Regions from separate parts of the Homo sapiens genome. Here region 1 is linked to region 2. Evidence: fine-mapped expression QTL. A gene starts in region 2. The other region holds a variant in brackets. All regions are shown on one strand. Distances are between the middles of the regions. Region 1 overlaps NDRG1 (N-myc downstream regulated 1). Region 2 holds the start of NDRG1 (N-myc downstream regulated 1).

What was found. PIP is the estimated chance that this variant, and not a neighbour inherited with it, causes the effect. A credible set is the group of variants that fine-mapping cannot tell apart.
Region 1: its variant is the best candidate, but not a certain one, in a credible set for the expression of NDRG1 in blood mononuclear cells (TOPMed, PIP 0.70).

What each region holds. Positions count from the first base shown.
Region 1 is chr8:133,263,912-133,266,677 of GRCh38, reverse strand. It overlaps NDRG1 (N-myc downstream regulated 1), which reads left to right. Exons shown (of 16, transcript NM_006096.4): 4 at 2,026-2,131. Among named protein-coding and RNA genes, the nearest start is that of NDRG1, 32 kb to the left of the region's middle. RefSeq lists a silencer at 618-912 and an enhancer at 515-1,015. The variant G/A (reference allele first, on the strand shown) is at 1,108.
Region 2 is chr8:133,295,565-133,298,330 of GRCh38, reverse strand. It overlaps NDRG1 (N-myc downstream regulated 1), which reads left to right and starts at 1,079. Exons shown (of 16, transcript NM_006096.4): 1 at 1,079-1,197. RefSeq lists a silencer at 749-1,198.

The DNA.
Region 1 (2,766 bases), 32 kb after region 2:
GGGTAAGAAGTAGCAGAGGTGGAATCCGATCACCAGCGGGTGTGGATGGCGTGGGGGTGGCTGCCTCGTACCACTTCACGGGGGGTCACTCACAGATGGAGCAGCCTACATTCTCTGGGCCTTCAGCACCTCTAGGAGGTAGGAAGGGCCAGGCTGTTCCTGTTTTAAAGATTCAAGCTGGGGAGGAGGTGACTTGCCCCCACAGGGTGCCTAAGTGGTGATCTGTCCCATCCCTTCTTCTCAAGCGTGAGTTTGTGAACGCTGACCTTCCTCTCTGCTGCCACACGGCAGTGATCTGTATGGGTCGCATTTCTGCCAGCTTCTAGAAGCAGGTTCAACAGCATTTAGAGTGTTCTGTGTTCCACTTCACTGCCTCATTTAATCTTTGGAAAATCAATGCAGCGTGCTGAGCTGAGGTGGCCTCGTGAGGCCTGAGTGTGCGCCGCTTGCGGGCGGGTCAAGTGCTGAGAAGCCTGGGGCCCCGCGGAGGCTGATTGTCTGGGGGACCTGCCTCTGTGCTGCCTGCCCGTGTGACTCTGGGATACTGACTTCACTTCCTCAGCCAGCTGGGTCACATGGCTCTGGCAGGGCTCCTGTGAGGGTGAGGACATGGAGGGACATGGTTCAGCACTGCCTTGACACCTGGCAGGTCTCAGCAGCCTGATGGCCTTGCCTCCTGCTCCCCAACTGCCCTGTGGGAGCAGAGCCCAGAGTGGGGCACTTCAAAGGGGAGGTCACTGCTCTCAGATGTGGAAATTGCTCAAGGGAGATGAGTGACTGGGGTCCTCGGGAACTTCTGGTTGACCTTGAGGAGGGCGGAAGCCCAGGGTAGGCATGGGGTGAAGGGTGAGTGGAAGTGACAATTGAGAAAGAGTCACGACCACCCTCTGCAGGAGTTTAGATGAACATGGCAGGTGACAGATTGGTCCATGAGTGAGCTGGGGTGCTTGGAACCAAGGCAGGGTGCCTTTTTTTTTTGTTTTCCAGAGGAAGAAAGGTGAGCAGGTCTTCAGCTGTTAGGAAGGTTTGGTGCGGAGAGGTGCAGGGATGACTGGGAGTAAGCTGGCTGGGGGTCACTGGCCGAGCTGGAGAGTTGGCCTTGACCCA[G/A]AGAACCATCTGGCTCAACAAGAAGGAAGGGCAGGAGGGAGGATGGGCATGGTATCATTCAGAATCTTTTGGTCAACTCAACATGGCTTACATGGGATTGGAAGTTGGTGGGCCGTGTAACTGAAAATCCCAGGTGGTGGATGCCATCCCCAAACCGTCTTTCACTCTTTTCCATCCCTGGGCTGGCCATACTTTCAGGCAGGCCCTTGCCTCACGGTGACAATGTGGCTGCTACAGATCCAGCCCTCCCAACCTTGCTCCATCAAGTCCGATCCAGTTCCCCAATTACTAGAAATAAGTGCAGCTGGCTTTAGTTGGCCTGAGCCAACCCATGTGTTCTTTCCTGATCCAGTCCTTGCAACTGGGAGGTGGAGTGCATGAATTGGCCTTGACTTGTGAAACGTGGGGAGGGGGGTCACTGTCAACAGAACACTTAGGACTGAGGGTGAGGGTTGGGTGGGTTCCTGAAGGAAACTGAGGGCTGTTCTTGGAAGTGGGGAGTGAATTCTGTGTAGCCCCAAGCCAGCAGATGTTAGTCACAGGTACAGTAACCTGTGGGGCCAGTGGGGCCTGAGGGCAAGGAAGCAAGGAAGCGCAGGCTTGATGGCCTGTTTTCCAGATGGAGCAAACAGTCCGGGGCAGAGATGGTGGCGGGCAAGCCCTTTCCCCAGCATTTGGTGCATTTAACAGCGCAGTCTGAGCCAGGCCTCTGTCCCCTGCCTCCTGGGAGTCCCCTCCTAGCCCTGGTCCTTGGAGTGGCTTCTGGCCAGAGAGAGCTGCTGCCCGAAGCCGGGGCTCTTATGGCCAGATGAGAAGAGAGCTTCCTCAAAACACAGTTGGAAACAGGCTGGCTGTCTTCAGCCACGCGGATGCCATGAACCCCACATGACCAGCCCACTGTCTGCTGTGTCTCCTCAGGAGCAGGACATCGAGACTTTACATGGCTCTGTTCACGTCACGCTGTGTGGGACTCCCAAGGGAAACCGGCCTGTCATCCTCACCTACCATGACATCGGCATGAACCGTAAGTTCTGAGGAGCTCTGATTCCCTGTCAGCCGGTTCCCAAGAGAGTGGCGGAAAAAGGCAGCCGAGAAGGGCTGATGGCCGGGAGCTGGTGGTTTCTTTTTGCCTGGGACTTCCTGGGGCTGTTCTGGGAAGAACTCTTGCCACAGCCTGGAAAAGCCAGAAATGCGCTGCATGTGGGCACGGAGTTGTCTGTGTGCCCGGAGGCGCTGGGAACACAGGAAGCTGTTTGCTATCTGTGGCAGTGACTTCTATATTAATGCACGCATATGGTTTTCAGTCTTTTCACAGAATTGTGCAACGATCAGCACAATTTTGGAACATTTTCATCCTTCCAAAAAATCCTGTACCTTTTATCTGTCACCCCACCCTCAGATGACTGACCCTTCATTGACTTTCCTTTTCTGTGAATTTGCCTGTTCTGGAATTTTGTATACATTGAATCAAATAATATGTGATTTTTTTTTGGTAACTGGCTTCTTTCTTAGTGCTTTCAAGGTTTATCCAGGCCATGCATTAATATTTGTATTTCCTTTATTCCTTTATTGAATAATAATATTCCATTGTATGGATTTACCACACTTTATTCGTTCTTTTTTCTTTTTCTTTCTTTCTTTTTTTTTTTTTTTCTGAGA
Region 2 (2,766 bases):
GCTTCTCAACCTGGCTGCACGTCAGGAGCCACCTGGGTAGCTTTGTAAAAACCCCAATGCCCAGTTGGTTTGCACCCCCTGAGATTCTGATTAAACTGTTCTGGAGTCCATCTCTCTCTTTTTATTATCTATCTATTTATTTATTTTTTAATTTGGCGGCTCCTCTGGGACTTCTCATATGCAGTAGGGGTTGAGAATTGCTGGTTTCTTTGGCCAGATGGGAACATGCAGGCCAATAGTTACGCACAAACAGAGCAGCAGAGCAGGACGGTGCTAAGGTTGGAAAGGGTGAGTCATGAAAGTTCAGGAAATCAGAATAGGAAGGGGTGAGAATCCTCTCATCTGGGCTTGTGGGGCAGGAGAGAAGAGCCCAGTGGGCAAGGTCCAGTGAGTGTGCTTAGAACTGGGAAGATGAGGGGAAGGGTAAGCGCTGGGCGGCGGTGGGCAAGATGGACGAGATTAAACGGGAGCGAGGATTTCAGCGAGAGCTTTGGCGACACGGAAGGCTGAGAATCGGAGGGAGCCTGTCGGGCGAAAGCGAAGGCGGCTGCTGGGCAGGCAGCCGAATCCGGCTGGAGAGCCGAGCTGGTGAGACCTACAGGAAGTGAAGGGAGTCGCTCAGGGCGTGGCGCAACGAGACTCTTAGAAGAAACTCTGAGGCAGAGATGGGGGGCCTCCGCCCATACGGAGACACAAGGAAGTCCACATGCACACGCACGAGCGCGCACATGAACACGCACAAGCACACAAACGCCTCCTCCGGGCAGGGCACACGCGCCCGCTGCACAGGCCGAGGCCCTGGACTCGGAGGGGACTGCAGAGCCGACCCACAACCCGGGCCCCGATGCCCCTCCCGGCCGCGCCCCTACGACTGCTTGCGCAACAGGCGGCGGCTCCAGTGGGCGCCCGCCGCGCGCTGCCGGAGCCCAGCCCAGCCCGGCGCGCCCGGGAGGAGGGAGCAGGGAGCGGGGAAGGGGTGTGTCCCGGCTGCGTGCTGGGACTGCGAGGGTCTGGGAGGGGCGAGGCGCGGGGGCGGGGCCGCGGCGCCTATAAAGTCGCCCTCCGCCCGGACGTAAACAAACCTCGCCTGGCTCCCAGCTGGTGCTGAAGCTCGTCAGTTCACCATCCGCCCTCGGCTTCCGCGGGGCGCTGGGCCGCCAGCCTCGGCACCGTCCTTTCCTTTCTCCCTCGCGTTAGGTAAGCCCGCGCCCTCTTCTCCCAGGCGCGACGCGGAGCAGAAAGGGGCCGCCCGTGCGGTGCCGCTGGAGCGCCAGGACCGCCCTTTGTAGCCCCGCGTACTCCAGGAGTAAGCGCCCCGGAGCTGCAAGTGCGCGGTCACCCCGGGGCGCGGGCGCGAGGGGGCTTTGGGTGCAGACACCGCTGAAGTGGGGGGTTCAATTACGGAAAGGGAGGAAAAAAAGACAGGGTCCCATTCATCTCCCCCCTAGCTGGGGATTGGGGTTCTGGAGGTCGGGAAGGGGGCGATGAGACGGTCCGAAAAAATACCAGGATAGCGTTTCCTGGCGTCGTCTCCGAATCCCAGCTGGCGCCGCTGGCAGGGGTGCGCGCTGGACGTGGGTGCAGAAGGGACTAGGTGAGTGTGTGTGTGTGTGTGTGTGTGTGTGTGTGTGTGTGTCTGTGTCTGGGAACGGAGAGATTGCGCGCGAGTGTGTAGATGAGGGGTTGGTAGAGGTGAGTGGCGCTGGCAAGGAGGCTGGAGAGGGGGGCGTGGGTGTGTCTGGCTTGCAGACTGGGTCGGGAACGGGTGTGGATCCGAGAGGCTGGTGGCGCTTCAGTCCCGTAGCACACACAGGGCGGTGTGCATGTGTGAGTGTAAGCGTGTGTGTGGGGGGAGGGTCCAGGGTGTGTCACAGTGCAACACGCGAGCCGGAGCAAGTGTCTGCGAGCGCCACTGGGCAGGGTGCGCCCCCGGAGGAACCCGGGATTGGCGCATCGGCGGCGTGGGAGAAGTGACCTGGGCGAGAGGGGTCTCGCGGACATTTGGCGGCCCCTTGAGCTGGCTGGAGCTAGGAGTGGCGTCATTTTCGCCTCCGCCCACCCTCCCCCGCTTTCCTCCCCTCCCCTGCCTCTGGTGCTGGCCGCTCCTGCCCTCCACGGGGGAAAACAGCTGGAATTACTTCGACGTTCCTGGGGGATCCGCCGCGGTCTCTGATTCAGCCTCGGGAGGAGATTTCGGGCTGGGCTTGGGGAATGCGGCTGGTTCTGGGGGAAACACGCTGTCACGCCTCTGTCAAATTAGTAGCTGGAGCTGGGATTTAGTGGGTCGGTTCCTTACCCACCCCTCCCCCATATCCCCCGCCTGTTGTCCCTGCTGTCCCTGGGGGTCCTGAACAGCACGCCTCTGTGGCTTGGAAGTGGGAGATGCCTGGCAGTGGGTGGGGGAGGCAGGGCCCTTGGTTATCTTATGCCCATCCAAGAACACCCCTTCCTCACGGACGCTGGGGGCACTTCAGTTTGTTTGGTTTCTTTAAGCTACTGGGAAATATCTAATATTCAGAAGTCAGCCAGTGGCCAGGCAGGAGGGCGGTAGACATCCTTATAATACCCATCAGCTGCACGGGACCTTCTCCTAAGCTGCCTCAAAAGAACATATCTAAATACAAACCCCCTGTTCTTGCTGCAGAAATGTAGTTTCAAGGCGAATTTTTCAGTCTAGACTCTTCCTGTTGAGAAATTCTGGCGTTCTTATTGAGTTTCACAAATGTGATTGAAATAAGCAAGGTACAGAGGGGGCAAACCCCAGCG